Linked DNA regions of Homo sapiens: all the other regions are linked to region 3. The links come from fine-mapping of genetic effects on plasma protein levels. A gene starts in region 3. Each other region holds a variant in brackets. All regions are shown on one strand. Distances are from middle to middle.

Region 1 (8,106 bases), 120 kb after region 3:
CTGGCTTAACCAGCCAACATGAAGCCCTGTTTTTATTGGTTAGCAGAGCTGAATAATCTCCTCTCCTCACAAAGCACCCACACAGCTGACATCCAAGGCCACTGCTGTGTTCAGGGGTAGAGATTCAGGAGGTTCCCCAAATCTGAGGAATTTTGGCTCCTTTGAAAACAACCTCTACCCTAACCTTGAATGTCGGGTCGCCTTTTGTCAAATTAAATTGTTGGGTTATATAGGGAGGCTATACTCCAAAACACACACATGCGCACACACACATACACACACACACACGCACACACATATGCACATGCTCGTGCACCCTATAAGTACTATTGATCACCCAGGAAAAAAAAATGTTTTCACTCTTCTTCTTTAGAATTTAGAAGCTTAAACTTCCCAGACACATTCCAAAGGCTGACGGCATTCTTCCTAGAAGAAATGTTGATGATTCGATTTAAAGGAAGGCCTTGTTTGATTACTCTTTGGCTGAACTTTATGGAATAGCAGGAGCTAGGGGCCGACAGTACTTTGAAACACTGAGTTCGTCTTTTTGCACTACAAAGTGAGCAGCCACTTGGTGCTGTGTCCCCATCCACCCTCCCCATGGAACTCCTGCTCCCATTTCGTGAGCTGCTCCAGGCTCACCTCTTTCAGTCTGTCCCTTAGCTTTCCCTTCTCCGTAGAGTCAAGAATGTAGAATAAAGATGAGATATAACAAGCACATGCTGATTTAGATGTGCGCATAGAGACTGGAGTCAGGGAAGGATGGGTGGGTTGGGGCACCTCTCATACTGCTCCTTTTTTTTTTTTTCTTGACTCAGAGACTCACTCTGTCACCCAGGTTGGAGTGCAATGGCGCGATCTCGGCTCACTGCAACCTCCGCCTCCCAGGTTCAAGCAATTCTCCTGCCTCGGCCTTCCGAGTAGCTGGTATTGCAGGTGCCCACCACCATGCCTGGCTAATTTTTGTATTTTTAGTAGAGACGGGGTTTCACCACGTTGGCCAGGCTGGTCTCTTTGGCCAGGATGGTCTCGAACTCCTGACCTTGTGATCCACCCTCCTTGGCCTCCCAAAGTGCTGGGATTACAGGCATGAGCCATGACGCCCGGCCTCATACTGCTTCTTTTTTAACGGAAACACTGATCTGGTCTTAGAGTTTCTGATTATAATTTCCCCATTGCTGGATCCTGCTTTTCTGGATTGAGTGGATAAGTTATATGAAAGTGTTTTACAGATCTGTGAGATTTTATTATAATTGGCCTGTTATGTGAAGTAAAATTTTAAAATTTCAAAGTAATTGTGGGTAGGGAAGGTGGACAAAACCATGCTAAGTCAATGAAAATTCTCAGTTATGAAACATTCTTAAATAGACATAATTTTACACTTCTAGGTATACACAGTTACTCAGATCAGAATAACAAAATTTATTAGATGACCTGTTTCATGAATACAAAAGCATGTGCTATAATTAGTATTTCAATCGTGGTTTTTCTCCTTGATCACTTCTGACATTTTGGAAAACCCTTTATTCTAGGATACATTTATATTTTTTATTTTGGTATTGGTTTAGACTATTATTTTGCTTCCAAAACATGATTTTCCCATACATAAAATTACCTAATTATCAAATAGCACTATCTGAATTAAATTAAAACTGTTAAATTTTAATTTAACAAATTAACAAATTACTTCAAATTAATAAATTTCAAATAATACAAAATACTTCAAATTAATACATTTGAAGTATCAGAGCTACCATTGGGAAGATGTACTATGAGCCAGGCAATGTGCTGGGCACTTTACCTACAAAACCCATTTAATCCTCACAGAAACACTGTGCTGGAGGAATAGTGTCCCCTTTTTACAGATTAAAAAAAATGAGTTTTTAAAAGGTAATGTATTTTTGGCAAGGTTGATCATTGTAAAGACAGGATTTGAACGTGGGTTTGGCTGACTGTGAAGCTGCTTCCCTGAGTGAGATGTATGTGGCTTCTAGTGTACCCATCACCCAAATAGTGACCATTGTACCTAAGAAGTAATTTTTCAGCCCCCACCTCCCTCCCAACCTCCCCGCTGCCTTTTGGAGTCCCCATTGTCTCTCATTTCCATCTTTATGTCCCCATGTACCAATTGGTTAGTTCCCACTTGTAAGTGAGAGCATGCAGTATTTGATTTTCTGTTTGTGAGTTATTTCACTTAGGATAATGACCTCCAGTTTCATTCATGTTGCTTAAAAGACGTGGGTTTGTTCTTTGTTATGGCTGCATAATATTCTGTAGTGTATATATACCACATTTTCTTTATTCAGTCAACTTTTGATAGATACTTAGGTTGATTCTGTGACTTTGCTATTGTGAATAGTGCTTCATAAACATGCGAGTGCAGGAGTCTTTTTCATATAATGATTTCTTTTCTTTTGGGTAGATGCCCAGTAGTGGGATTGCTGGCTCAGTGGTAGTTATATTTTTAGTTCTTTGAGAAGTCTCCATAGTGTTTTCCACAGAGGTTGTACTAATTTGCATTCCCATGAACAGCGTATAAGCCTACCCTTTTCTCCACAGTCATGCCGACATCTGGTAGCAAAGTTGGCATCAAATCAAGTAAACATTCATGTAGATGGTGGGAAGTGGGAGGACTGAGGATGGGATAAGCCCAGCGTGTAGAAATACCATACTGGCCTCACAAATTTATTCAGAGTAGGGTTTTTTTGACTAGTCATTCTGATTGGTGTAAGACATCTCATTGTGGTTTTAATTTGCATTTCTCTGATGATTAGTGATGCTGACTATTTTTTCTTGAGTTTTTGGCCACTTGTATATCATTTTTTGAGAAATGTCTGTTCATGCTGTAACCACCCAACAGTTCACCTTACCCGCTGCCTAGACAGAGCCTATTTATCAAGACAGGGGAATTGCAATGGAGAAAGAATCGTTCACACAAAGCCAGCTATGCAGGAGATCAGATTTTATTACTGCTCAATCAGTCTCCCTGAGCATTCGGGGATCAGAATTTTTAAAGATAATTTGTTGGGCAGGGGCTTGGGAAATGTGGAGTGCTGATTGGTCAGGTTGGAGATGGACTCCTAGGGGGTCGAAGTGAGGTTTTCTTGCTGTCTTCTGTTCCTGGATGGGATCACAGAACTGGTTGAGCCAGATTACCGGTCTGGGTGGTGTCAGCCTATCCATCCAGTAAAAGGTCTGCAAAATATCTCAAGCACTGATTTTAGGTATTACAATAGTGATGTTATCCCCAGGAGCAATTTGGGGAGGCTCAGACTCTTAGAGCCAGAGGCTGCATGATTCCTAAACCGTAATTTCTAATCCTGTAGCTAGTTTGTTAGTCCTACAAAGGCTGACTGGTCCCCAGTCAAGAAGGGGATCTTTATGGGAAAAGGCTGTTAGTTTTGTTTCAGAGTCAAACCATAAACTGAATTCCTTCCCAAGGTTAGTTCGGCCTACGCCCAGGAATGAATAAAGACAGCTTAAAGGTTAAAAGCAAGATGGAGTCAGTTAAGTCTGATCTCTTTCACTGTCATAATTTCCTCTGTCATAATTTTTGCAAAGGTGGTTTCATTGTCCTTTGCCCACTTTTTAATGGGGTTGTTTCTTGCTTGAGTTGACTTCCTTGTAGATTCTGGATATTAGTTCTTTTTCAGAGGCGTGATTTGAAAATATTTCTCCCATTTGGTAGATTGTCTGTTTACTCTGTTGTTGTTTTTTTTTTTTTTTTTTGGCTGTGCAGAAACTTTTTAGTTTAAGTCCCATTTGTCTATTTTTGTTCTTGTTGCATTTGCTTTTGGTTTTAAAACTCGTAAGGCATATTGCACATACAGAAATGTGGGTAAAACATATATGTGCACTGAAAGTCAACCCGTATATTTCGGTATAGCCCTAGTATTTTACAGCTGGCAGCCCCTTAGATTAGTTAGACCCAAACCAAGACACAGAAATGTTTTGAACACTACTCTCCACTTGTGAGGTCAGAATTTCCACATGTCGGGCTTACCCCATTCTCGTCCCTCTCACTCCTCTCTGTCTCCATGAATATTGGCTTGATTTAATGCCCACTTTGCTCCTTGAACAGCCACCTTCACAACACAATGTTCAAGGAGATCCTTGAGGCTAAGTGCCCAGTGGGAACCTTGAGATCCCACCAAGGACACAGGCCACTCCCTGGGGTCCTCTGTGGCCTGTTTATCTTAGGGCTAAACTCTTTTGTAAGAAAAGATAACACTTCAGCCCTACTAACTGGGGAAGCTTTCACTTCCCACTGGGCCTATTAATGCCAGACACTATTAGCAACTTAATTGCTTAATGGGGCAATTGGAAGATCTTAGTTGCTCTTGTGCTGGTAGTTAATGAAAGCCAGGCCCAGTGTTTTCATTAACTGGCACTTAGCTGAAGTGAGAAAGGAGGATGGTGTTGGTGGTTCCACTGCAATGTTGAGAAGTTCGTGCAGTGTCCACATCTAATTCCAGCTCCACAACATTATAAGTAGAACAGGAAGAAAAAAAAATGACTTTAGTGTCTAGGTCCTCTAATGAGAGCTAGGATCATTTTGGTGACCTTGAATAATAATGGTGCATCTACATGTACTTCTGTCTTCTCCTGGGAGGCGTTCCACACAAATCAGCACCTGTTTTGTTTCCAAGAGGAAATTCAAAGAAGACCCAAATCATGATCTCTCATTCTTTATCCCCATCCTGCTGTATTTTTTTTT[T/C]CCCTGCAAGAAAGAAACACCAGCAGCATTATAGTTTCCTTTTGACCTGGTAAATCAGGCAGTTGGAGTGCAGAACTGGGGGCTTTGTAAAAAATGTATTCACTGCCTCCACTGGCCACCAACTACTGAGCTTGAAGCTTAATGAGTACATTCTTTCATCAAGTAGAATGAAAGCCAGTAAAAAGGACATGAATGGTAAATAATAGAAATGGCAGAAGTAAAAAAGTCACTTGCCTTTCTTCTTTTTTCCAAAAACGGGAATTTAATTAAAAATAAGTTACATGTGTAATCAACTCTAGGGTTATATAACTTCCCCTAGGAATAGAACTTGGTCTTAACCACCAAAACCACTTAATTTCTAGGATACTATCCTCATGATATGAGCAGAGAAAGAACAAATACATTCTTCACTGAAGTGAATTGGTGTCCTTAGATCAGTTCCTAGTAGATGGTACTGTTTCTGTTCCTAGCAAAAGCCGTTTTGCTCTTTTCTGCTTCAGAACTTTAGCACCTGCTGTTTCCTGGGCTTTGAACTCTCTTCCCTCAGATCTTTCTATGATCATGCCACCAGCCTCCTCCCTTTCTCCTTTCAGATCCTAGCTCAAATGTCACTTTCTCAGATAGGCTTCTGGTTTTCTTGAGACAGGGTCTTGGAGTGCAGTGCCATGATCTCAGTTCACTGCAACCTCCACCTCCCGGGCTCAAGTGATCCTCCCACCTCAGCCTCCTGAGTAGCTGGGACTATAGGCACATACCATCACGCCTGACTAATTTTTGTATTTTTTGTAGAGACAAGGTTTCACCATGTTGCCCAGGCTGGTCTCGAATTCTTGGGCTCAAGTGATCTGCCTGCCTTGGCTCCCAAAGTGCTGGGATTACAGTCCTGAGCCACTGTGCTCGACCCCAGGCTTCTGTGGTCTCAGCCTAATGCCCTGCTTTATTTTCTCCATAGCACTTTCACTGCCTGAATCTATATTATGCATCATATTGTCTGTCTGTATCTCCTCTCTAGGATAAGGTCCATATTGGAGCTGGAATAACTTGTTCAACGTTGTGTTCTCTTTTTTTTTTTTGAGACAGAGTCTCGCTCTGTCACCCAGGCTGGAGTGCAGTCGTGCGATCTCAGTTCACTGCAACCTCAGTTCACTGCAACCTCCGCCCCCCAGGTTCAAGCGCTTCTCCTGCCTCAGCCTCCCGAGTAGCTGGGATTACAAGCACCTGCCACCATGCCCTGCTAATTTTTTTATTATGATTTTTAGTAGAGATGAGGTTTCACCATGTTGGCCAGGGTGGTCTGGAGCTCCTGACCTCAGGTGATCCTCCTGCCTCCGCCTCCCAAAGTGCTGGGATTACAGGCGTGAGCCACCACTCCCAGCCATCAAATGTTGTGTTCTCAACACCCTATGCAAGGTCTGCGCTCAATAAGTATTTATTGAGTATGTAAATGAGTGAATGTGACTTAACAAGCTAAGAGTCTGTGACTACTTTGGTGATTGGATAACTCCCTACTGCTACTGTATGGGAACTTCAAAGACAAGATGAAAGGAAACAGTTGTTCTAGAAACCCACATAGGCCAAAAGTGAATTTCCCATTGGCAAGGTTCGCAGGCAAAAGTGAACTCCCAGAATTGCAATGTGGTATAAATAAGGAAAAGGTAAACAAATAGAGTAAAAGAGGGAGGAAGGAAAGAAGGAAGGAAGAGAGCAAACCCAGTGAATTTAAATTCAAGGCTGTAAGGATGAGATTCTAATGCTAAAAAGAGTACAGTTTGCTGATAGCGGGTTGGTGAAAGGAGAGACATTTTCTAACTCTCTTTCAAACCAAGCCCTCATTTTACCCCTGGGTTCTTACTTGATCATTATAATAAGCATTAACATTTCTAGACTACCTTTTCCTCCTTTTCCTAATAAGGCTAATTATGGTCTCAGATCCTCAGGGATTACATAGAGAAGTATGAGAGATGTTTTGTTTTGGTTTGATTTTTGCCATACTGTTCTCTCCATAAACTGTTTTCTTCCACAGTTTCAGAAACATACTCTTCCACTGAGCTGAGACAAACTCCCTCTGGCTCAAATCAGATTTCTACAATAAATCTGATTCCATGCTGTTCCCCAGCACCCTCTCATCTCACCCCTCTTTTCTTCTCTACACCTTCCTGCTTGCTTAGTACAGCTGTCGTTGGTTGTGTAAACCTGTTGTCCCATAAGTGTCTGTGTGTGAGTCTGGCTTTTGCCCAGTTTTGCTCTGAGATTTGGGCCGCTGTGTTTTTCATTGCCCATCTGCCTGGAGACCAGTTACAGCATGCGAGGATCCCGGGGTACATGTTGTCATAGAGCCACAGAATAGATTTCCCTTATCCCTGTTCGCAAGTGAGGACTCTTCTTTGGCGGCAATGCCCCTGAATAGGCTGCAGCAGTGAGCAGAGAGGAAGCAATGGAGACAGAAGGTAGTGGCATGTTCTGGGGATGGCTACAAAGCAATCAGGAAGTGCTCCAAAGTCCCTGTGACTTATTAGCACTCTCTAGCAGCTTCCTTACAGCTGCAGCCTCTTTCAATCCATGCCTATGAAAGTTCTTGCCAACCTTTACACTATTCACTGCCCCCAAGCATCTGTACCTTTGAACAGAGCAGAATCTGGCCGGCAAGTCTGGGTCTGAGGTCCAGGAAAACTGTCCTCTTACTACCTTGCTGTGGGACCTCCTCAGAAAAGACACTTAGTATCTCTGGGTCTCAGCTTCCTCATCTCTAAGATGGGTACAGTAATCCTGAGACAGGTGATATTTTCTACTTCTCAGGGTTATTTTAAGAAAACACAAGTGGAACAGAGGTTAAGGTATCTGACCACTCTTCAAGATGAAGGAGATGTTAATAGATGTTCCCTCCATGCCTAGTTACTAAAGGATGGTGTAGCTGACAGGGGCAGCCACTGGGGGTTCTGTAGCTTTTTCATTAGACTCCAGGCTCTGAGCTCTGTTCTGGGAATGGGAAGACATCAGAATGCCAGAATTCAGAAACAGAAGTACAAGAACAAAAAGTTTCCTCTCTGGGAAGTGGAAGAATGGAGGAAGCCCTCTGAGTGAGGTCCACCGGAATCATTAGGATGGGACTTGGTTGTGTCGGGGAGGGAAGACTTTCCCTTTACCCACAGAGGGGTTAATAACTGAGTGTATGAAATAAACGGACAGCAGGCAGATTAAGAGGAGAAAAGGTACACACATTTTGTATATGCACAGGGGGCATCCAAGGAAAAAAAGTGAATACCCCCAAACCCAGTGGGATCTAGAAGCTTATAGACAGGGGAGGAAGGACGCAGAGAACACAGGAGAGAGTAAATGATGCATGGAACCTCCAAAGAATAGGTGACAGATAGCCCATGACAGTCTGTCTC
Region 2 (8,106 bases), 150 kb after region 3:
GATTGGAGGCATATATCCATGGCTGGGTTGCCCCATCCAGGAGAAGATGAAGGAATGTCCTACAAGTCTTGGTGGCTTCTTACTTTGTGGAGTCACCATTTTTCCCAGAAGAGTCTGTTTTCTTTTTAAAATGTCGCTTGATTTTGGTCTTCTGATGGCACACATTCAGCTCTGTCTCCATAGAATGCATGCCCTCTGGGAGAATAGGTAGGCTGTGTGTAAGGAGATAGGAGTGGGAAAAAGATGACAATGGGAAAAAGCATTAACCAAAATCCTAGGGTAAGAAAATACAAGATGCATTCAGGAGACAACTGGCAGGCCAGTTTGGCTATTATATAGCTTTTAAAGAGTATTTTTTAAAAAACAACAAAAACCTGAAAACATAATTAGGATTCAGATTAAGTAGCATGATGTAGTCAAAAGAGAGACCAAGGATAAAATCTAGCCCTGCCATTCCCCATCTGTCTGCCTTGAGCAAGTTATTTAATCTCTCTGTGTCTATATCTCCACTTGGTAAAATGGAAGTAATAACACCAATTTTATAGTATTTTGTGAGGATTAACTTAAGCGATGTATGAAAAGCTCCTGGCACACTAAGAATGATCAACATATGGTAATTTTCTCAAATTCTAGGATCTTTCTACCTCCACAGTGGCTTCTTCTGCAATAGGCGATTAGGAGAGCAGTCACCAGACAGACCTTGGATTTGAGTTTAGCTCAGCCAGTTATAAAGTCTTCAATTTTAGGTAAATTACTTAACTACTCTTAACTCAGTTTTCTTATGTATAAAATGGATTAGTCATACTTACCTTGTAAGATTATTGAAAAGTTTAGAAATATATCATGTTAAGCACCCAATAGTACCTGATAAGAAGAGGAGATGGAGTAGAATTCAATAAATCATGGTGATGGGGGAAGAAGGAGGAAAAAAGGAGCTGTTTTAATTGAGAACCTTGAATTCTTGACCAAGAAGCCTAGAATTTATGTTGTAGGCAGTGGAGAGTCACTGAAGGTGATTTTTCAGATAGGAAATCATAGGATAAAGATGAAGAGAATCTTAACCTTGTTGAGAATGTGTTAATAAGGTGCACAGGGCAAGGAAGAACAGCCTGGAAGGAGAGAGACCAAACTACTGAAGACAAAAGCCAGCTTGCTTTATGTATGTGCTGTATAATTCTTTTACTACCAAATGGATTTCTTCTTCTGGAATCTAACAATTCTGAATATGTGAGAGAGGCAGAGATAGAAATGAAGAGTGAGGGAAAGGACAGAGGGGAGAAAGAGAAAGAGAGAGAGGGGCCGAGAGAGATAGATACAGTAGTTCCCTCTCCGCAGGGGATGTGTTCCAAGATTCCCAGTGGATACCTGAAACTGCAGATAATACTGAACCCTATATATGCAGCAGAACTAGCATAAATTTCATTTTCCTTCTTCACAGTTTCACAGATAGAAGATTCATTCTTGCCATAGATCTTAGCAACCTCAGCATATGATTTTTTTCTTTCCTTAATTCAGTTGAGAACTTTCACCTTTTAATTTAAAAGATGCACTTCATGGCTTCTCTTTGGCATATCTGAATCCCAGAATCACTGCTCTTGCACTGTGGGGCCATTATGAAGTCAGATAATGGTTACTGGAACATAAGCACTTCGATACCATGACAGTGAATCTGACAACTGAGACGGCTGCAGACCATGGGGCAGGGAGCATATGGAGCACGGATATGCCAGACAGAGGGATGATTCATATCCCAGGCAGGATGGAGCAGGGCAGTGTGCTATTTCATCGTGCTACTCAGAACTTATGAATTGTTTATTTCTGGAATTTCCCATTTAATATTTTTGGACTGTGGTTGATCGAGGGTAAATGAAATTGCAGAAAGCAAAAATACAGATAAGGGGGACTGCTTGCTGTACAAAGATAGAGACAAGAGGAAGGAGCTGTCCTCAAGGGCCTTTTGTGTGAAGACATCTGGCACACAGATACGCTGCATGCAGGTGGCTTGAGAGAACATGCATCCAGGTATAAATCTGGCATCGACAGGTTGAATTTTCAGTTGACAGGTGGACTACTTTAAATAAAACTGGGGAATTGGTGTGGAAGGGATGAGAACACCGCCTCCCCTTTGTTATCCCACCTCCACCAAGAAGTGCCCGAACCCCTGAGAACAGCTCACTCCACCCTGTCTCTGGGTCATCTGCATCATCTGCTGACTGCACTTCTCTCGTCTGGTCTGGGAGGAGATTGATTTCTGGTCAACAGCACGCCCCCTGACAAAAATGACTTTCTGCCATTTCCTTCCACTCCATTTTCAATCTGATTGCTATTCTGTTTGGAGGAGTGCTATGGTCGGAATGTTTATGTCTCCCTCAAATTCATATGTTGAAATCCTAACCCCCAAGGAGGGGCCTTTGGGAGGTACTTAGATCATAAGGGTGGAGTCCTTGTGAATGGGATCAGTGCCCTTATTAAAGAGGCCCAAAGGGGCTGGTTTGCCCTTTCCACCATGTGAAGATGCAGTGAGAAGGCACCATCTGTGCCCTCATCAGATACTGCCAGCCCTTTGATCTGGGACTTCACAGCCTGCAGAACTGTGAAAAATAAATGTTTGTGGTTTACAAGCCATCAGTTTATGGTACTTTTGTTGTAGCAGCCTGGACAGACAATGTAGGAGGGTGAGTTTGTCTTCCTGAGAATGGTGCATGACTTAGCTTATTCTGAAAGCAAAATGTCTTTAAGTTTAGTTTATGTTTTTTATGCTTTTTATGTTATTTTTCCTTTTTCTTTTCCACTAGGCATCCAAACACTGGATGTCTAATAACTAATGAGTGGCAGCATCCTACCAAAGCCAGTTTCTGTTGCCAAAGTTGTTACTGCCCTAAAGGCTGGTGCCTGGCTTTTTCAGTTGAGAGAGGGCAGCAAGTTAATACCTGTGCTGGCCCAAATCCACTGTGAGGACATGCAGGTGCCCTGGAGCCGCTCTTTAAAAGGCTGCCACCTCCTGGTGGAGTGTTTCCCATGTGCAACCTAAATCAGAGCGCTGTGGATCAGTGGATTCTGCGGATGACAGTTGAATAAAAATGCCAACTGAATGTTCCCCAAAAGATGATGCTCTGTATTGACGTCTGAGAGGTTTTCTCACCCACCTTTCAGTTCTGAAAGATTTAGTTGTCCTGCTAAGATGGATGAAATGGATGACCCCCAAGATACCTTATAGGGCCCCCTTTTTTTGGTTGTGGGAGTGTTTACTATAATCTCCCTTTTTTGTTTTAAAGACCTTTTAGTGAAATACTTTGTACTTCAAAAGTATATATATGTATATATACAACATATAAAAAATATGAATATTTACAGGTACCCAGCACTTACCTTAAGAAACAGAATATGATGGAATACTCTCAAAGGCCCCTGTGAATCACACCTCATTCACATCCCTTTTCTATCTTCCCTTGGGTATTTATGTGTTTGTCCTGCTTTTTTAAAGAGTTTAAATTACATATATATGTATCCCTAAGTAATATATTGTTTTGTTTGCTGTTGTCTTTTATATTAATGTCATCAAACTAGATGCATTCTTTTGCAACTTGCATTTTTTTTGTATGAAGTCATGTGAGATTAAGCCATGTTGATATATTAAATGATGATTCATTCCTTTCCCCTACTATATGGTACTCCATTCTATAGATATACTATAAATAATTTAGTCATTCTTTGTTGATGGACATTTGGGATGTTGTTTGTTCTTATAAATAGCATATTTGGAGTATTTTTTACTATTACAAATTCTGATGCTATGAACCTGTTTTGAACACGCCTTTTGGTACACAGGTACAGGAGTTTCTCCAGCTTTTGTAAGTTGGGATGGGATTGCTAGGTATGAACAAACATCTACTTTATGAAATATTTCCAAGTATTTCACAAAGTGACTGGACCAGTTTATACAAGTACCATATGAGTCCTCATTGATCCCGTCCTTAGTAATATTTTTATTATCTGATTGACATTTTTGCCAGTCTTGTCAGTATAAAATGGAAGCTCTTTCTGGTTTCAGTTGGAAATTCCTTAGTAACTTATGAGAGGAAACTTTTTTTATATCTTTTGGTCATTGACGCTTCCTTTTCTGTGTTGAATTCATTGTTATGTTTCCAATACACTGCGTTCCATTCGGTACAGCTCTGCCTGTGGCTGAGTTAGGCTAGACAATAGTGCAAAGAAGGCCTGTGCTGATGAAGGGTGTGCTGCTTTTCTTTGTGAAGGCCCTGAGGAGGCGGGAAGTGGC[C/T]GCTATGGACCCCGTTATATCACCGACATGGGAGCTGGTGAGGATGATGAAGGATTTGAAGACGACTTAGATTTGGATATTTCCTTTGAGGAGGTAACAATAATCTCTGCTCTTAAAACCCAGGGTGTTTGTGTTTTCTTGCCGAACAAGACAATTTAGCCAATGGACCATAAACATTTTACTTAAAACTTAAATGTGCCCATTTGCTTTTAACACTGATTTGTTTTGTCTGATGATCAGTCTCCAGGTGCTGATAAATCAGTAGTAGGGAAGTACTAGCCATCCTGATGTTCCATAGGCAGCTCCTGCCTGCGGACTTCACAATCTGGCAAAAACATATTTCTATTTCCCACCAAGGGAAATTTCAGAAAATCAAGTATTATAAGGAAATGAACAATTCCTTGACAAAGTCATGCATCTTCATCATATTGTAATAAGAATAAATAATGTAATATCAGTTTTACTGCTGATTTTCTGAGTAATACAAGGAAAAGCACTATAAGTCCCTGACCATCAAGCTCTTTGTCCATAAATTAGAGTCAGTGCTGTCTTCCCCATCTCCATCCTAGGGTTTTTGGAAGTGACCATGTTTTCAAGTACTAGGCAACAACTATAAATAAAACAGTCCAATTGCCATGCTCTGTGTTCATCTTGAACCCCTTTCCTTCTCTGGCTTTAGGTTAAACCACTTCCTGCTACCAAAGGAGGGAATAAGAAATTTTTGGTGGAAAGCAAGAAGATGTCTATATCTAACCCAAAGACCATTTCTAGGCTCATCCCCCCTACCTCAGCATCTCTCCCTGTGACCACGGTGGCTCCCCAGCCCATTCCCATACAGAGAAAGGGGAAGAATGGTGTGGCCATAATGTCAAGGCTCTTTGACATGCCTTGTGATGAAACTCTCTGCTCTGCTGACAGCTTCTGTGTCAATGACTACACCTGGGGGGGCTCGCGATGCCAGTGCACCCTGGGCAAAGGTGGTGAGAGCTGCTCAGAAGGTAGGCCCTTGGGGGAGAGGAAGAAGTGGTGATGAATTGGCACCATTGACAGCCAGAGGGCAGTTTTGTGGTCCAAACATAGTTCCTTCTAGTCCCTTCTCCAAGATAAGTACCTTCGTCCACATATTGGTCATTAAATTAACTATACAAGGCAAATTGTGAGGCAACTTTCATTGCTTCTAAGTAGACAGCAGCCCTATTTCTATGTGTGCCAAATGTGTAGTCCCTTTAAAGCAATCAATAAATCATCCTGATACTATCTTAGAGAGGTAGGTTTTACTATAATCACATCTCTACCAAAATACGCAGTTAAAGCTTATGCATGAGGGTTAAGAAGGATAACAACTGGGCCAACTTATATTACACAAAGGCCTGTATAGCTGAGGGCAAGTGACAGTGGCCCTAATGCCATTGGTTTCTTCTTAGGAAAGCCAGTGCCGGTCTCCAAAAATGCAGCTTCTTCCTAAGAATTTCAGAAGCTCAAAGTCTCCAAGAATGAGAGTTGTAGGTATAAAAAGTATAGAAAAGAAGATAGCGAAGTTGAATAGATTAGTGAGGGTTCTCACTTAATGATATTCAGGCAACGTTGTATATTGATTTTTGCTTTTGAAGAAGTGAGGAAATAGCATTCTTTTGTGTTGTCTTTTTTCTTCTTCAGATATTGTTATCCAGTATCCTCAGTTCTTTGGCCACTCCTATGTAACGTTTGAACCTCTGAAGAATTCTTATCAGGCATTTCAAATTACTCTTGAATTTAGGGTAAGAGGGATGTGTTGTTTGATGAGTGCTTTTTGGACACTTTAACACAGCAATGTGCTACATTCAAAGGCTGGGGGAGAGGAAGCGGGGCAGCAGGGAGAGCGACGAAAGGTAAATATGACACAGAGCCTGTCTCTAAACCAGCTCATGAGACAATAGGAATGAAGAGTACATTCACAACATTCAAGTGTGACAGTGAGGAGACGGTGGGTTTGTATATTACTGAACTATAGAGTAGCTGGCATGAAGATTGCAAGTGAGAATGTTGGGGTCCGAGCAATGTTGTTCACAATAGTGATTTCTCCCAGGCCAGGATTGAGAAGAAACAATGCATTCCCCGTTCCAAAATTGTTTAAAAAGAGAGCCCAATTCTCTGTCTTCATTGTGATAGCTGTCACTGAACAAATAGAAAACTTTTCTTTACGCAAGCCTTGCTTCGTGAGGGCCCAGTGGAGGTTCTCTGATTTGAATCAACTGCAGATAAGAATTCAGTCAGTGACCTCAGCTTAAACTGATTCTTTTGGGTATCTCCAATGATACAAAAAGGTCTGGAGGTCTGGAAAGAAGTCTCATTTGAAGTCATGGCCACAGTGTTGAGTCTTCAAGAAATGACCTGTCTTAGTCTAAGACCACCAGCACAGCTTTTGGCTGAGCTATTCTTACCATCCTGTTCTCCTGATAGAAGGAAAGAAGCAAATGTGCATGCCTCCCCAGGGGGAGGGAAATAGAAAGAACAAAGTGAAAATAGAATTGGATGTACACCAGCAATGTCCTCACTGTGACCGTGGTCTTTGTACATTTGGTTTTCTGAGGCTCTGCAGGTGCATCCACAAAGGACAAGTAAAGAGCGGGTCAAAGATGGGGTCACCTTGCTCTCGCCTCACTGCTACCCCTCAGTTTATATCACTGCCATTTGTTTATTGAAAATGAACTGGGACCAGGTATCTGGGAGTGAATTGGAGCCCACATGCTTGACCCTTTGTAGATAGGATCGTGGAGGAGAAAATGCTCAAGTTTCACATTTGTGTCTTTCCAGGTGGTGCCTTAAGGAAGGGGAGGTGCTTACTGTTCATGTGGCTTTTGTTTGTATAATCACAGGCGGAGGCAGAGGATGGCTTACTGCTCTACTGTGGGGAGAACGAACACGGGAGGGGGGATTTCATGTCCCTGGCTATCATCCGACGCTCCCTGCAGTTCAGGTAATTCCTGCCAAAAGCCTCACACTCTTTTTTTGTTACATTATCTTACATTATATTTGCCTTTTTATAGTATGAAAAAATATATACAGGATAGGTTCTAGTAGATGAAAGAATGGTTTGTATAAAATGAGTATGAACCAGTTTACCAAATACTGGTGTACTGGGATTGCAGGATAACCTATAAAACTTGGGTTTTGGAAATCATTCATTCATTCAGCAGCACCTACAGTGTAACTGGCTCTGGAGGTGTTGTAGAGTGTACCTGGTCCTGGGGATGCTGTTGAACATACCTGATGCTGCAGGTGCTGTTGAATGTACCTGGCACTGCAGGTGCTGTTGAATGTACCTGGCTCTGGAGGTGCTGTTGAATGTACCTGGCACTGGAGGTGCTGTTGAATGTACCTGGTGCTGGAGGTACTGTTGGATGTAACTGGTGCTGTAGGTGCTGCTGAATGTTTCTTGAGGAGGGTACCTGGCACTCCTGTCAATCCTGAGGATGCAGAGTGAGCCAAAGGAATACAGTTTCTTTTCTCTGGAGCTCTAGTGGATGTGATGGGAAGAAGGCTGGGGCCTTCTCATCTCCCTTTGGCAAATGTGGCTGACAGGTGTGGACTGAGAGGAGCCTCCAACCTCCTATGGGCTTACCATCCTCATCTTCCTCTGGGCTGTGCTGGGAACTCTTTGGCTTGCCTCCACTGCCCTCATCGTTTCTCCCCCAACACACTTTGGAAGCCACCTTTAGCTTATGTGTGGTCTTCCTGGGGGGCAGAGTTTTGTCGAAGGGTGAAGATTTTAATGAGTCTTGTGGAGGTGTGCACTGCACCTCTTTGTGAACAACCAACGGGCACCAGCCTTGTCCTTCTCCGTGGCG
Region 3 (8,106 bases):
CATCTTCGGTTGTAGTTCCAAACTAGAAACAACCCAAATGTCTATCAGGAGTAAAATGGATAAACAAATTATGATACATTTCTATAATGGAATACTACACAGCAATGAACATGAATAACCACACAACTTGGATGAATTTTTTCAAACATAATGTTGAGTAAAAGAGGAATAAGTGATTACATTACTGCATGATTCCATCTATATAAAGTTCAAAACCAGGCCAAAATAATCTAGGTGCTAGAAATCAGGAAAATGGTTACCTATTTGGTTGTAGGGTAGGTTACAGTTAGTGGGAAGAATGAAAGGCTTTTGGGGTGCTGGTATTGTTTTATTTCTTGATCTGGGGGTTTATTACACGTTTGCTTTGTCAGTGCAGTCCATTGATTACATACTTAATTATAATCAAGTATAAGCAAGGAGGACATAATGCATAGCAGATGGCTATGCATTATACAGTATCTTATTATATATGTTATCATTTGTAATACAGGGTCTTTGTCACTCAACCCAATAGCACATTATTTGCACTCTTATTTAGGGCTTCCTTTGTTCTGCTTTATGGAACAATTGACAGTGCAACTGTCTTCGTCTCCCAACAAATTTGTAGTCTTCTTGAGTGCAAAAAATATTGTTGCATTTTCTCTAATATATTATTTCTGTTCTTAGCACAGAGACTTACACATAATGGGATTCAGTCTCAATGTTTGTTTTACATTGGTGTAGGGAGAGTGTTTACTTATTTTTACTGATCTACTTTTATTTGTGTGTTTTAATTAAAGGTAAATGGGAGGTTAGAATTCTCATCCCTCATCCTTCTTCAAAAATACACACTTCTAGAGAGGAAGCATGAAGAGGGCTTTGTGGGGGTGCTGGTCATATCCTATTCCTTGATCTGGGCAGTAGTTAATAAAGTTATACAAGTGTGCTCACTTTGCTATAATTCATCAATTGGTACACTTACTATTTGATACTTTTGTATGTTGCATCTTGATTAAAATGTAACATATAAATATATGTATATTTATATTTCTAGTTTGATAAGACACTACGTTGGTGAGAGTTCACGGAATTAGTTAGGCACATATACTGCTTATTGGGGAGTAAAATAGTACAACCTCCTTGGGAGGAAATGTAGCCAAATTATCAAAATTGAAAAGGCATTTACTGTTTGACCGAGCATGGTTAGTCTAGAAATGAACCCTACAGTCTACTATAACATGTGCAACTTATTACATATTCAGTGTCATTCATGCCTGCTGTTTATAATAATTGGAAACAACAGAAGAAAGAACAAATAAATTACATATCACATGTAGAATATTATTCAGCAGTTAGTAAGAAGGAGGCAGATCTGTATCTGCTGATTTGGAAGGATCATCAGGTTAAGAAGTACGTAGAAGATGCTCTTGGTTGCGTTAAATATATGTGTATATAATTAGCTTGTCCATTCATAGACCATCTCTAGAAGGATATCCAAGAAACTGGTGATGGTAGAAGGAAGAAAAGGAAACTTATTTTTCACTATACACTCTGCCTGATCTGCATTTCAAATTTTACATGTAGATATAACCAATTTAGAAAAATAAATCAAAAGATGATTCTTGGCTGCTGCCTCTTTGTCACTCTCATTTAGAGTCTTAATAAACATTCTATAATTGATAAGTTTGCCTTTACTTTCTTCTACCAGCCTCCAAATCTATTCCATGCAGCAAAGGTCAGATTCCTCTTCCATGATAATGAGCAAAGTAGGCAGGTCACTCTTCTGCTGGTGACCTTATTAATTGAGTTTAGACCTCCAGTGAATTTGAACAGATTTTTTTTTTTTTAATGAAACATTCAAAGCCTCTTGGCCCCTCTTTAGTTCCCCTCCTCTCAGAAAGCAGGAAGAGAGTGAAAGGCAAGTGTTCTATTTGTCTTTAGTCAGATTTACAAATGCCATAGTTGGTTTTCAAACTGGAAGGAGAGGGAATCTTCCAGTTCCCTTGGAGGATGCGATTTGAACTGCAAAGGAAGGGAATAAGTTTAATGTAACATGTGCTCTAGATTTGAAGCAGATTTTGTGAAATAAGGTCTTATCTCAATGGCCTGATGATCCAGAGTGTTTGCAGGCCCTCAGAGGTAAAAATACAACAGTATAATCTAATGTTGTTTTTCCCCAAGGAAAAAACAAGAGGGGTCTCTGAAGAAACCAAGCCTATTTCCCAAATCGCCTATGGTCATCTGCAAAAAAATGGAAGGGAGGCCCAGGGCCAGGGATGCCGAGGTGGTGTGGGCACATGAGGAGGACATTGGCAAGAAGGCTGCCCAGGCTTGCGAAATTTGCAGTGGACAATTTGCACAGGGTCTGTTAAAAGGCACATGCAGAGTAAAGGTAGCTTAGATTAGATGATGCTGTTTTATCAGCTATTAAAGAGAAAGCAAAACCTGGAATTTACTGATTGTTTCGTCCAGCCCATTCATTTTTACCAAGGCACACTATACGCAGAGCCTAGGATTAAACACCCACATCTCCCGATCCTCTCAGTCCACTGCTGTGTTTACTTTCCACATTGTTCTCTCAAAAGCCTGAAAGCTGGAATCAGACCCCTTGGATTCAAGCGCTGCATGGGAGCTGCATGACCTTGGGCAAGTTTCTTAACCTTCCCATGCTTCAGGTTCCTCACCTGTAAAAGGCGAGAATAGTAATGACAGTATCTTCCTGGTATGGTTGTTATTGGGATTAAAATGCACTTCAAAGAAGGTCTGGTACATAGGAGACCTTAAATAAATGGTAGCCATAATATCAACGATTATTATTACTTCCAGTTTCAGCATCACAGAGAATCATTTTTAAGTAGGAAAGCCTGCATGGGAGGCATCTGCATTGCAACACTCGCTTGGTTCTGGGTGCCACATTAAGTCCGAGATAAGAAATCACTTTCGCATAAAGAAAGGCCTCTAACAACTTCTCAGCTGGCGCTGGAGGAGCTCTCTCACACAGGTGGAGTTCAAAGGGAGGTGGCACGACCCGACACCAATGCTGAAAGCAGACTCCTGCGTGGAGTGGAGGCATGGCCTAGATGACCTTTAAAATGCTAAAAAGTCTATGATTTTGAGACCTTTGAGACTAGCAGCCTTGGGGGCAGTCACTTTGCTTAGCTTAGTGGCCGGCTTTATGGTCACCTTGGACGTGAAGAGCATAGTTCTGTCTGAACTTTGCTCCAGTTCTATGTAAGAGGACAAGCTCTGGTGTCACAGCTAAAACTTCCAAATACTCAAGTTGGAGGGGACTTTGAATTTATTTGTGAACAGACAATTGCACACTTGAAAATGCCAACACATAAGGGAACACACTCAGCTTTGCTAACTAACAAGATTGAGCTCATTACAAACTCTCCAGCCAGGGGATATTTCATTCTTAAAAGAGGAGTAGAAATCCTGTGTGTGTGTGTTTGGGGGGCTGGGGAGGGGAGAAGAATATATCAGTCAACATTGTTTCCTCCCGCGCTCCCAAACATAGGCTAACTGTGAAGAGCCAGGACGCCCACCGAGTCCTGGCAGCGTTGCAAGGTGGGGAGGGGGCGGGCGCGGTCCTGTCGCTAGTGACTGCAGATTTCCTCTGCGGGGCACTTCCTACGGCCTTTGATCTTTCCCCAGGAACTGCCGAGGGCCGCGTTTGCCTCTAAGTTTATTCCCTCTTGGTTTATTTATTGTATCTGCTTTCTCTTCTCGCTGGTTTGGAGGTCAGAACGCCAGTATGCAACGGGACTTGTGTCCCAGGCAGGGTCTCCCCTCTCCAGGCACTACCGCGAAATCTGGCAAAAGGTACATTTTACTGAGTCCTAGGGCAGCAAATTCAGCGGCGGAGAAAGAGTCTTTCTCCATTCAGGAGACAACCCAGGAAGCCCGATCCCGGGATCAGAGGCCAGGACCCCGCCCCGGCCCCCTGCCCCAGGCCCAGCTGGGCGCCGCCCAGGGGCTTTTCTCGGTCCGCCTGGGGGCTCGAGCTCGCGTCCCTCCCTAAGACGCCAGGCTTAACTTGGAGTTTCATCTCCTCCCCAGGAGGGTCTCAAGTTGCCTTCCTCTGCCGGGAAGGGCCCCCACTCCCCCGCTCCAGGCCCTAATCTCCACCCGGCGTCCCAGTCTGAGCGGCCTGGCCTCAGCTCTCCATCTGCGAGCCTTAAATCCCATTTATCTTCTTAGCGCCTCAGACCCGGACGGTCCCGCCTCTCTTCCTCTCACCCCCACCCCACTTGCAAATCACAGACCCCCGTCTACCCCTCGCATCCCCCAAGTGCGCTGGACCAACTACAGCAACCTTTGAGGTGTTAGAAAAAGTCGCCTAGAGGGGCGCGGCAGGAGGAGGGCCCAGGTGGGGTGGAGGGGGGGCGCCCCAAGATTTCAGGGTGAGGACCGCGGAGGGTCCTGGACCCGCAGTCGCCTAACTCCTGCCCTGCGTCTCCAGTGCTTGAAGTCGGTCCCTCCCAGGTCCCCAATCTAGGTCACCAGCGGGGAAGGGCTGCGCTGGGGGTCGCTAGAGAGGGTGAGGGGCGGGCTGTCTGCTTCCGAGGTGGGCGAGGAGTGAAGGTTTCAGGGCCTGTCCCTCTCACTTCCACTCGATTGTAATTTCATCCCCGGGCCGGTCGAGCCTCCCTCCCTCCCGCGGCCAGCCCTTCCCTCCCAGTCGGCCTCCTTCGTCGCCCCCGCCCCCGCGAAAAGCCCTGCAGCTTGCAGCCGGCTTCACTCGCGCACGCCGACCTCCCGGCTGCAGTCCTACCTCTTGGAACTACCCGTGTTTCCGGGCCCAGCCCTCGCAGCCCCCCACCTCCTCGCCCCGGCCCGGGGATCCGTTGGGGCCGCGTCCCCCACGCGCCCCCGGAGACGCCCTTTCCGTGTGCGCCCGGGACTTGGTGAAACTTTGCAGGCGCCGGCTGCGAAATGGATTTAATCCGAGGCGTCTTGCTCCGGCTCCTGCTCCTGGCTTCCAGCCTCGGACCCGGCGCGGTGTCGCTCCGAGCGGCCATCCGAAAACCAGGTAATGCGCTCCTCCGCCCAGAGCCACCACGCCCCGAGCGCCCCTGCTGGGCTCCGGGGCGAGGACACAGAGCGGGCAGCGCACCGCCTCCCTCTCCCCGACCAACGTCTGCTTAACTCGCTTCAGCTCTGCCAGGAGCTGAGAAAAGACGCAAACCTCGCCCTCCCCCGAGCCCGGGCGGCGCTAGGGATATTTATTTATTAAAAGAATGATCAATTTTCCAGACATAGTAGATAGAGGTGGTGGTCCCCGTGTTTGACCGCAGAGAGCTGACAGTTGGGACAGCGATCGTGCTGTCTCAATTACAGAGGATGGCAACCATGCAGAGGAGTCAAACCAGCCCCTCCTGCGTCTCCAAACATTTTACTCAATTCATATTGTCCAGAGCCCAGCCATTTCCTGTTAAGTGTCTGAAGGGTTGCCTGGAGCCCCCTCTGCCCATCTCGGGTCCTGCCCACGCGTTGTGCAGGGATGTGGACTCTGCTCTTAGCATCCTCTTCCACTCTGGGGCCATTTGTTCAGAAGGAAGCACCCAGTGGGTTAATTTTACCGTGTTTTGAACTCCTGTCTTTGCTTTGGCATTTAAACAAAGAAATGTACGTTGTAACCTGTTATAAGGGACTGGGAATTGGGGGAGAACTTGAAACCATAATAACGTGTGTTTCCTCTAGCTGCATATAGGTAAAAAGTCTTCGTTTATTTTGGTCTACTTTGATTTGGCCTATGCTGTGAGATTATTCAAAGTAGAACATTCTGAACAATGAAGTTCTAAACATTGTTTCCCAAATAACGATTTTTATTACTTTTTGCTGGGACCATATTTAGAATTCTGAAAAATCTGTTTTGTCTTAACTTACTTTGTAAGGGAGGTTGTCTTATGGGATTAATTATATCTTATGAACAATGGAAAACAATATTACTTTTATTTGAATGCAGTCTGCAAAACCTCACAGAAAGTGCAGTTTGTCTTCACAAACGTTTCTGTAAGAAAGAGGCAAAGCTAGGAAAATTTATCAGAGGGCAGAGAAAATCGTCTTAGCGGGATCCCATGTGAATGCTTAAATATTTTCGCATTGAAACTCTCTATCTGGAAATATGACTTGTTGCATTTCGGCTCTGGAAGCGTCCTCAGTCTTTGCACTGTGTCTCTTATTACCAGCACTTGTTACCTGCCTTGAAATCTAAGGTCATTATCATAATCTACACCATATTTAAATTATGAGCCACTCCATTTATGAGCTCTTCAATTCATTTTGGAGATAATAGCTTCAGTCCAAGGTAATATCACATTAAATTGTTTCTCTTCCTGCACGCACACATACATATACCTTCAAGGATTTCAGTGAAGGGCTTCTTTCTAACTTTCCTCCTTAAGATAACCACATCACGATCAATTGCATTTTGCAGATTTATTCACATGAAATCATCTATTAATTGTCACAATTTTTAAACAAAGCATAGTTATATCTATAGTTTTAAAGCATGAACAGTGTATGCAATGCTTTTTAAAGGATATATTTTAATCCATTTAAGGGGAATTTTTAAAAAGCATTTTATAAAAACCTGTTGTATAAAACTGCTCATGTGGGTCATCATATTTTCCTTCTTATTTTTTGGAGTTCTTCTCCTAAAAAGATTTTCTACCTGGTTCATTCAGGGTCTCATTCTGATATTCATGCCAGGAATATGCCATGCTGGCCTCTTTGGTTTTATTTGAAGCATAGATAGGGTTTTGATAGTGGAAACACCACCTCTTAAATACTTTGGCATATTAATTACATCAAATTTGAGATAGAAGTGTTTAGACTAGGTTCAACCTAGAAGAGTTTTATTTTTATTACTTTATAATTTTATCCAGACACTAGCTTTCAGGTTGGAAAGCTTCTCAGATTAAAATGACAGCTACTTCATAACTTCAGGGGAAATTTCCCTCCTGGGCTCATTTACATCCCTTGGAAAGACTAGTTTTTGATCCGGAAAATTGGTCCAGATTAAAAAACTGAATGTGCCCTGCTTGGCTCTGATGTGAGCAGCAACTAGCTAATTTATAATCTTCCCCAGACACTAGCAAATCCTGCTAGTATCCATATGGGAGTTTCTTTGTACCTTGTTTCCTCAACAGAAATTGGTACATAGACAGTACTTTGAAGGTATCGTGGCCACGGTGCAGGCATACTGGAGCGGTTCTGTCTTATTTGGATGACCCTCCCTATCTCCTCATACTCCTAAATCTACTTTTGATAAGTATAGCATTGTTGGAGAAGTCTTGGATTCAAAATCAACCTGGAAATTCCCCATCCGCACCTACCTCTGGTGAGAAAAAACTGAGTAGCAGCTTCAAGTCTGAGTCTAGTTTGGGTTCAACACAAGCAACCTTTCTCTTCACCCCAAGATAGCTCATCTTTTGACATTGAACATTAATAAAGAAACCTCTGCATTTGCCAAGACTTACAAGAAATGACAGTTTTCAAATTAAGTGAAATTAAATCATAATAACTAACACTAAGTGCTTGCTACACTGTTCTAAGAACTGGATGCACAGTGATTTATTTAATCAACCCAATAGCCCTGGGAGATGGGGACTATTATTATCACTGTTTTACTGAAGGAGAAATTGTGGCTTAGAGAGGTTAAATATCTCATCCAAGGTCACACAACTAGTAAGCGGTGGAATGGAAATTTAAACTCTGATATTCAGGACCAGAAACTGAGCTCAGAACACTGTGTTTGCAGAGGTGTGTAGCATGTCTTGTAGGGTGTCTTCCTGGAGGCTGAAGAGTGGAGCTCCCGTGGGTCAGATATTGGAGCCTAGGTGGAGGCTGCTGTTTTGTGTGGGGATCCTGCGTTGCTCTTAAACATTTGTAAATGGGATCTGCCCATGCCTGCTAAGACAACAGAGTGCATATGATACTGAAAGAATTTTGGAAGCTACTGTCTACTGGCCTCATTTATAAGAATCACAGGGTGTGGCCTTATGGGGTGATGATGAACCACTTGCTTCTCTTGTTGAACTCCTGGGGATTAAGGCTGGTGAGGGTCAGAGGGCCCACTACAGTACCTGAGGGTAGAAAAAGGGGCCTCTGAAGAATGGG
Region 4 (8,106 bases), 110 kb after region 3:
CTCATAAGCAAATAATATATAGTATGGTGGCAATGAAAACCAAAAGCCTGGAAAAACGTTCCTCATCACTGAAGTTCCAATCGGGGTGCCATGCCTGTCGTATGCTGTCTATCGAGTTGGATAAACATGAAAAATAGTTTTCATTTAACTTACCTAGAGTTTTTCTAAAGGTGTCACCTTATTGGCTAAAACTGCTTCAGAGCTTTGCATTGTCACCTTCTGGAAGGGGCAGGCTAAAGCTCAGCAATGGCTGTTTTTAGTTAAAAGTCCACCATTGGCCGCGCGCAGTGGCTCACGCCTGTAATCCTAGTAATCCCAGTCCCAAAGAGGCAGATAACTTGAGGCCAGGAGTTTGAGACCAGCCTTGCCAACATGGTGAAACCCTATCTCTGCTAAAAATACAAAAATTAGCCGGGTGTGGTGGCACACACCTGTAATCCCAGCTACTTGGGAGGTTGAGGCACAAGAATTACTTGAACCCAGGAGGTGGAGTTTGCAGTGAACCTAGATCATGCCACTGCGCTCCAGTCTGGGCGACAGAGTGAGACTCTCTCAAACACACACACACAAAGTCTACTATTGGCTTATTTTGGGTACATGTGAAAGTTCAGAATATGTCTGTGTATGTTTTAGGGACTCGGGTCAAGAAACGTTCTCTAAATCTCAACGTAAGATATTTATATTAATAAGTGAGAAGGAGCAAAGCTTCCCATCTTCTTCCTTTCTGACTTTTCTGCCTAAATATTCCTCTAGTCCCTGGCAGATGCCTTCCATAATAAGACTTGAAGAATTCATCTTCACACGGGGCTGCTTCTAGGTGGACTGCAGTACCTACATATTGGTTTCATTTGAGACTTTCAAGGTCATGCAACCTGGGTGGGTTTTTTAAAGTATTACTCGCAAATTGATATTTTTGTCAAAAGTCATCTCTCCTTCCATCTCATCATAGACTTCCATATTCTGTAAGTAACAAAGGAACTTAATTAGTTTCCTCACAGGAAGTGACCCTGCAAAGGCTGTTACTGAAATGAAGATCAAGTCTGGGATTCAGAATGGAAGCTGAACAGAGGATGGATTTTCTTTGAACTGTTCTAAGAGATGATGTGATTTGACTCATGGTCAAGGTCAAAAGCTGTGAAGGTTAAAGGCATTTCTCATTCAGAATTGAGGCTTATACCCTGATTCATAGTATCATCTCTTGAGGTTTAAGTGTGTCCAAATGTGGAATCAGGAGAGATGGTTCTGAACCAGCCTCTAAGCCTGGTGAAGTTGCTTGATTCCAGTCCTCAGTTTCTTTCTCTGCAAATTAAGGCATGCTGGATACGTGACATCTAAAATCCTGTGACTCTGCTCGTCTAGTATCAAGACGTAGGGGAGGCAGTATCGATGGATTGCGTAACACACAGGCTCTGGGCTGGACTCCCTAGTGCAAACCTTGTCTCTACCACTTCTAAGCTGTGTGATCTTTGGTGGGTTATTTAACTTCTCTGGCCTCAGACAACAGAATGGGGATAATAATTTACTTGCTTCATGGGGTTATTATGAAATTACATGAGTTGACACACATAAAATGCCTAGAACAGCGCCTAGCCCTTAGTAAGTGCTCAATCAATGCAAACTATTCCTACATGGCTTACTCGATGGGTCTTTTCTGCTTTCCTACATAGCCTGCTTCTTCCTGGCTACAAGTGTGTTTTGAAATTATTTATTTATTTATTTATTTATTTATTTATTTATTTATTTATTTTTGAGATAGAATCTAGTCTTGCTCTGTCACTTAGGCCGGAGTGCAGTGGTGTGATCTTGGCTCACTGCAACCTCCACTTCCCAGGTTCAAGCAATCCTCCTACCTCAGCCTCCCGAGTAGCTAGGATTACAGGCATGTGCCACCACGCCCAGCTAATTTTTTTTTTTTTTTTGTATTTTTAGTAGACACGGGGTTTCACCATGTTAGCCAGGCTGGTCTTGAACTCCTGACCTCAAGTGATCCACCCACCTCAGCCTCCCAAACTGCTGGGATTGTAGGCATGAGCCACCGCACCCTCCCTGGCCACAAGTCTTTATGCTTGCTATCCTGTCAGGACAGCTATTCTACCTCCTTACTTAGCTTACTCTTGTTCATCCTTCAGGACTCCTCTTTAAGTGTCACTTCCTCCAGGAAGCCCTGCCTGACTACGTTCCTCTACTCCCAGATTAGGTTAGCTATACCTCCAACATTTACTTGCAATACTCAGCACACTTGTAGTTAATTACTTCTTCAAGGTCTGTCTTCCTCTTGGAACATGAATGCAACGTCTACCTTGCTCCTTTGTGTGGAATATAGGACATAGCACTGTGAACACACCACATGTCAAATAGGTGCTGGTAAGCATTTGGACACAGGCAGTCATGGGATTGATCTAGAGCAGGGGTGTCCAATTTTTTGGCTTCCCTGGGCCACATTGGAAGAGGAAGAATTGTCTTGGGCCACACGTAAAACACACTAACGATAGCTGATGAACTTAAAAAAAAAAAATCACCTCATAGTGTGTGAAGAAAGTTTACAAATTTATTTTGGGCCACATTCAAAGCTGTCCTAGGCCGCATGTGGCCCTCAAACAGTGAGTTGGACAAGCTTGATCTAGAGGATGCCAGCAACTAGCTGGATCCCTGAGCAAGCTGCTTAGTCCTGCTAAGCCTTACTTTCCTCTGCTGTAAAATACGGATGGTAATAGTGGCTACCTCAGAAGAGTTGCAGAGATGAACAGGTCTGTACAGCACTTAGAAGAATGGCTCATGGAGGATTTTTGATTTTTTTTTTTTTAACTTGAGCCACATGCAAATATATTTTCACACTAGCGGTTACTTATTTTTGAGTAAATAATGTAAAAAGCATTACCCACAAGTAATTCAATGAATCCTTTACCACCAATATCAGAGGCCACAACAGTAACCAACATCTGACCTCACCCACTACAGAAATAAAAACCATACAAAAGCCAACGAGGATCTGCACATATGCATCCCCCGACCCCCGCAATGCCCCACTTCAATCCCAACTGAAAGTTTATTTATTGCTATCGTTTTCTCATCATAAAAGTAATCTCAAGATGTGGTAAAGCTTCAAATAATACCTAAATGGATATGACTAACTTGAAAGTTCCTACTGTGATTTTATTTCATGTGGAATGCAAATTCATGTCTTAGAGCTCGTCATCATAACTAAGTGAACTGCCACCGTTCTTCAGAGCATTTTACTGGAATATATAGCAAAACTTGGACATATGACTGCAATATTTAAGAGTGATGTAGTCTGGTGTTGGCTTGCTAGCCCCCAAAAGTTAGAATTGAAAATATTTAAAGAATTATTCTTAAACAGTTAATTTTGGGAGGAAATGGGAAAAAACAACCCTCCCTAATCTCCCTTTCTTTTCAAAAAAAAGTGTTAGAAGTTTTGCTATTTAAGTATGAGCTTTCATTACCATCAGCAATAGAATTAGATATAAGCAAGAATGAGCTTGCTTGGATGTCAGCTGGGATTTCATATGACAGGCGACAAGTGCTGCTTCACAAAGAATTCTTTTCCTTACCTTTAGTTTTGAAACTGAAAATCTCAGAGCCACCTACTAGACTAGCACCTGGTCCTAGAAATTCCAGAAGCTGTCAAGTCCCTTTGCTCAGGCCCTAATGGAAGGGCTACTCTAAAGGATTTAAAGAAGTCCGACCTGTAGTTCGGCAAATTGATCCCGTAAAGCTTCAATTCCTCCTACCCTAAACATTCCTGATATAATTCCTGCTTAGACTGATGGCAATTGACATACATTGAATTATGAAACAGCTTTGGGAGCCATTTGTAAACTGTAAATGAAGTGTGCTCTCCTATTGCCCCACCTGGGACAAATTGCCAGGTGAGTTTATCATAACACCATTGTATCCATGTGTTTGTCATTTGGTTAGGTTAAACCAATTTGTAAATAAAGAAAGAAGGCTGAAAGCTGAAGGTCAAATACTACATCTTTTTTTTTTCCATCTTTGACTACTGAGTGGTTTTGGACCTTTCTCTGCAATTCATTTAGTGTAGAGCAAATCCTGCATAAAACCAGTATGTAAAATTGACTGATTCGGAGGCTCTTCTGAGCATGAGGTTTCCTCTCACCCCTGTTGTGTTTGCCCTGGGTAATGTATGGGATCACATCTCTTCTCTTAGAGCAGGGTGTTTAACTGGCAGTCCATAGATCCCCAAGGGTTTCCTGGATAGAATTCAGGAAATATAATTCAAGGGGTCCCTGGACTTGGATTGGAAAAAAAATTATATCCCTAGTTTTACCAATGGAAATTTAGCATTTTCTTCAAAAATGAATGTAGACAACAAATCACAATGGTATTAACAATTCTTGTGACCCTGTCAACATTAGAATCACAAGTATTTTCTTATCTGGTTACAATGGTTGCACATATCTCAAAATACCAGTTATGTTTATCACTACTTTGAAATTAGCATAGTTACTGAATCCATTGCTAGGTTTTTTATTTAATGTATTAATAAAGTATATTATTTCATGATTTTTATTATTTTGATGATCCTTTTCAATATAATTGATTTCCTTTGTGAACCTATATATTTGATGCCTTTAAAAACATCATTCCGAGAAGGCGTTCATAGGCTTCATTGGACTGTCAAAGTGGCACAAGCCAAGTTAAACCATGCTGTTGTCTTAGATCAGGGGTTGCTAAACTTTTTCTCACAGGATCAGATAGTAAATATTCTGTGCTTTGCCAGCTGTATGAACTCTGTCTCAACTGCTCAACTCTGCCACTGTGGTAGGAAAGCAGCCATAAACAGTACCTAAATGGGTGA[G/A]GTTAAACAGTACCTAAATGGGTGTCGTTGTGTTCCAGTAAAACTTTATTTACTAAGACTGGCAGCTGGCTGAAATTTGCCAACCCTGATTTAAGGCATCATGCTATTTCTAAGTTGAATTCTGAAGATATTTTAATTCAGCTCAATCACCCTTTATTGGATACCTCCTATGAGCATATGTTCATACAAACATGTATGTATGGAGTATCTCATGTGAAAAACATGCAAGAGATTTAGGGATGAATAAATAAGCTGTAGACTCCACCCTTGGACAGTCTACTGGGGAATGCAGATGGACAGAGTTCAGAGGAGTAGTGAGTGTTGTAGGCAGGCATGGCGATCAGGAACCTGGAGAAACATAAGCTTGATCTGACCTAGTTTTGAAGGAAAGAAGGCTTCTTATGGGAGCAAAGAAGGACACATCAGAGATTACCAGGCAAAAGGGGAGGGAGGAAGCAACATGAAAAGCTTAGACTGAGGAAGCCACTTAAGCAGTGGCTTGGAGGCAAGAAGAAAATGTTCCTGGAATTGCTTAGAAAGCCTGGAGCTCTGTGGGGTGAGAGATGGGTCGGTGAGGGTCACACCAAAAAAAGGCCTTATAAAGGTGCCCATCTATATCCTGAAGGGAATAGGGAGCTATGGAAAGTTGTAAGCAGGAAAGAGACTGGTAGCATTCCCGTCTTTGAAAGATCGTGCAGACATCTCAAGGAACACGTAGATGAAGAAGACAAAGTCACCATGCTTAATGAGCTCCCAGCCCAGGAGGAAAGACAGAAGTCTAAAATTATACTGGAAGGTGATCTAATCAGTGTGATAGTAGAATCAGATTCAAGGCATGGGATTGTCTGGAGGAAAGTATTTTTAATTCTGTTTATGAGATGATGTTTAGAAGGAATAATGTGAGAGAAAATACTTAGGGAGGGAGCCATCAAGTAACCCAGCGTCCTCCAGAAAGCATCCCATTGTGGGTTGGTAGGTTTGATGTGGAAAGAAGGAGGCCACAGGTGTCTGTCTGTGCTGTAATTAGGCTTCTGGTCCCCTCCCTCTAAGGCCAGTAGAGTGGCCTCTATGGTCAAGGCTATTCTGGATGTTCTGTTGTATCCCCTAGAGGACAGTTGGCTGCTCCAACAAATTCCACTCTCAAAAGTATTTTCCTAGCAGGATTTAACCAGTTTTAGCCATTTCCTAGTTAACGTCCATGACATGCTTTAGCTTCACTCTTCATCTCAGCTCTGTCTTTCTGGAACAGGAGTTCTCAAACTGAGAGGTGAAATAGAATAGAAAAGAGAATACCACAGGCTCTCACGCATAGTAAAAAGGAGAATCGGTTTGTGAAACTTGTTTCAGGTGTATGTATGTGTGTGTGGTGTTTACTGGGTCACAATGTCCAGTGTATATCTTACCGTGGATCATTCAAAAACACAGCTCTGATATGTGATGAATCCAGAGCATATTTGAGGTTGAACAGGCTTCATTTGCCATGTGTTGGTGTTGAATTCAAGTTCAAGAAACAGATTCCTCTCAGGGGCTAATGACACCTGCTTTATTTTTGAAATTGTAGAATTGGAAATGCCATCTAAGGTATTCTAGGGGGAAAAGTTCAGTGCAGTGTGTTTCAAATTATGGGCCACAGCACTTCAGTGAGTGGCAAGATCAATTTAATGGTCTTTTACCAGCATTTTGTTTTTTAAAAGGAGAAGTAGAAAAGAAAGGAAAAGGAGAGAAAGAAAGGAGAAACATGAATAAGGTAGTAAAGCTAAGTATTTTTTCTTGAAACTTTTTTCAGCTTTGTATTCATATATAATATACATATTTATGTGCATAGGTATATTTACTATGGAAAAATGTTTACTTACTGTGAGTCAAGGTCAGAGATACTGAATTAAGTAGCTCCCACCCTGATCAGGAAGTCACTTGTTACATTATGGTCCCTGATTGAGGACCACCCAGTTTTGCTTTAATATAGTCAACGAGGCCCAGTTCATCCCTTCCAAGGCAGTCAGCTTCATTGTCTGTCATTCCTAATTGACATCAAAAGGTTTTCCTGCCATTGGCTTCTCTGTAAGAAACCACTGGGCCTCTTAGTCCAACATGGAAAACACAGAAGCTTTCCACACCATCTTTATTTGTCTGTCTCTTATGTAAAGACACCACCCTATCCTCACTAAGTTTCCTCCACCTAAGCCAGCAGTACCCACTCTTTGGATCCTGCATCAAGCGGAGATGGGTCTAGAGCAACTTCTGCCCAGTGATCAACATAGAGAACCATGTCTTCCTAGGATATGGATTCTGGGACTTAGACTTTCCTCAGGATTCTAGTTCACAGTGACCTATTCAAATACAGTTCTTGAAATGTGCTATTTTGCGCTGGCTTCCTACTGGTCCTTAGAGGTGCTGTTTCTGCACTGATGCTCAGATGTATTTTATCCCCAGCTTATTAGGTTATAAACTCCCTGAAAATGGAACTGTGCTTACACTTCCGTGGAGCCTCCTGGAATATAACTTTTGTGATGGATGCCTGGTTGATAATCATTCATCATTTGCCAATGGACTAGCCCATGGCAGCCACCTATGGGGTTTGATAGTATCAAGAAAAGTGATTGTTCACTAAGATTGAGATTGGCAATGGGCAAGGTAGTCAAAACACCACAAGAAAGAATTAAAACAGAAAGGTATACCACCCAGTGGTTCTGTGACTTTGGGTAAATTATTTTCCTTCAGTGACCATGTAGGTAGAATGAGAGACTGGATCAGATCAGTGACTCTCAAAGCTTTTGGGATCATTATTTTATCTTTGAGAATCTAATAAAAGTGAAGGACCCTTTACTTAGAAAAATGAAATGTGTTCATGTATAAAATCCTGCATACAATTTCTGAGAGTCCTCAGACACTTGGACCAAATGATCTCTAAGATTTCACCCAGCCCTGATAGCCAGGCTGGATTCTAACAATGCCAATGGTAAGTGGCAAAATGAACCAGTTAGTGAGCCCTGATTAAGTGAATTGATGAATTGGGTTTTGATTACCCACTGCTGGCCGCATTCTCTATTCCCCACCTGAATTCACCTGCCCAGCAACCTTCCAAAGCTGAGCCACTGATCTCCTGAGGTATAGGGTGCCTGGCCCAACCCTATCTCACTACTTGGCAAAATGCTTGCAGTGTATGCCCTGCTGGTGGCTGCCCATGTTTTTGTTGTTGTTGTTGTTTTTGAGACAGGGTCTCATTTTGTCACTAGGCTGGAGTACATTGGTGCAATCATAGCTCGCAG

Alleles and levels. Positions count from the first base shown, and alleles are read on the strand shown. Strength reflects both the effect of a copy and how common the allele is.
As copies of C replace T in region 1, the plasma level of the protein whose gene starts at base 4,722 in region 3 goes up (weak association).
For the plasma level of the protein whose gene starts at base 4,722 in region 3, allele T in region 2 goes with a higher level than allele C (strong association).
With allele A in place of G in region 4, the plasma level of the protein whose gene starts at base 4,722 in region 3 is lower (moderate association).

What was found. PIP is the posterior inclusion probability: the model's chance that the variant is causal. The UK Biobank Pharma Proteomics Project read protein levels with antibody pairs (Olink). The fine-mapping took linkage between variants from a reference panel, not from the people measured, so its PIPs are less certain.
Region 1: its variant is fine-mapped to the plasma level of the EGFLAM protein (UK Biobank, PIP above 0.99).
Region 2: its variant is fine-mapped to the plasma level of the EGFLAM protein (UK Biobank, PIP above 0.99). The variant lies in the coding sequence of EGFLAM. If it changes the protein, the assay may bind it differently, which can mimic a change of level.
Region 4: its variant is fine-mapped to the plasma level of the EGFLAM protein (UK Biobank, PIP above 0.99).

What each region holds. Positions count from the first base shown.
Region 1 is chr5:38,371,350-38,379,455 of GRCh38, forward strand. The region is part of intron 6 of EGFLAM (EGF like, fibronectin type III and laminin G domains); the gene reads left to right. Among named protein-coding and RNA genes, the nearest start is that of EGFLAM-AS2, 28 kb to the right of the region's middle. The variant T/C (reference allele first, on the strand shown) is at 4,718.
Region 2 is chr5:38,401,870-38,409,975 of GRCh38, forward strand. It overlaps EGFLAM (EGF like, fibronectin type III and laminin G domains), which reads left to right. Exons shown (of 22, transcript NM_152403.4): 7 at 4,257-4,372; 8 at 4,959-5,277; 9 at 5,936-6,036; 10 at 7,135-7,235. EGFLAM-AS2 (EGFLAM antisense RNA 2) reads right to left here and starts at 1,602. Exons shown (of 3, transcript NR_102750.1): 1 at 1,530-1,602; 2 at 1-212. The variant C/T (reference allele first, on the strand shown) is at 4,280.
Region 3 is chr5:38,253,838-38,261,943 of GRCh38, forward strand. It overlaps EGFLAM (EGF like, fibronectin type III and laminin G domains), which reads left to right and starts at 4,722. Exons shown (of 22, transcript NM_152403.4): 1 at 4,722-5,014. The coding sequence starts at 4,918. LOC124900966 (a long non-coding RNA gene) reads right to left here and starts at 4,829. Exons shown (of 2, transcript XR_007058739.1): 1 at 4,757-4,829; 2 at 3,260-3,794. RefSeq lists an enhancer at 3,352-3,853.
Region 4 is chr5:38,359,119-38,367,224 of GRCh38, forward strand. The region is part of intron 5 of EGFLAM (EGF like, fibronectin type III and laminin G domains); the gene reads left to right. Among named protein-coding and RNA genes, the nearest start is that of EGFLAM-AS2, 40 kb to the right of the region's middle. The variant G/A (reference allele first, on the strand shown) is at 4,838.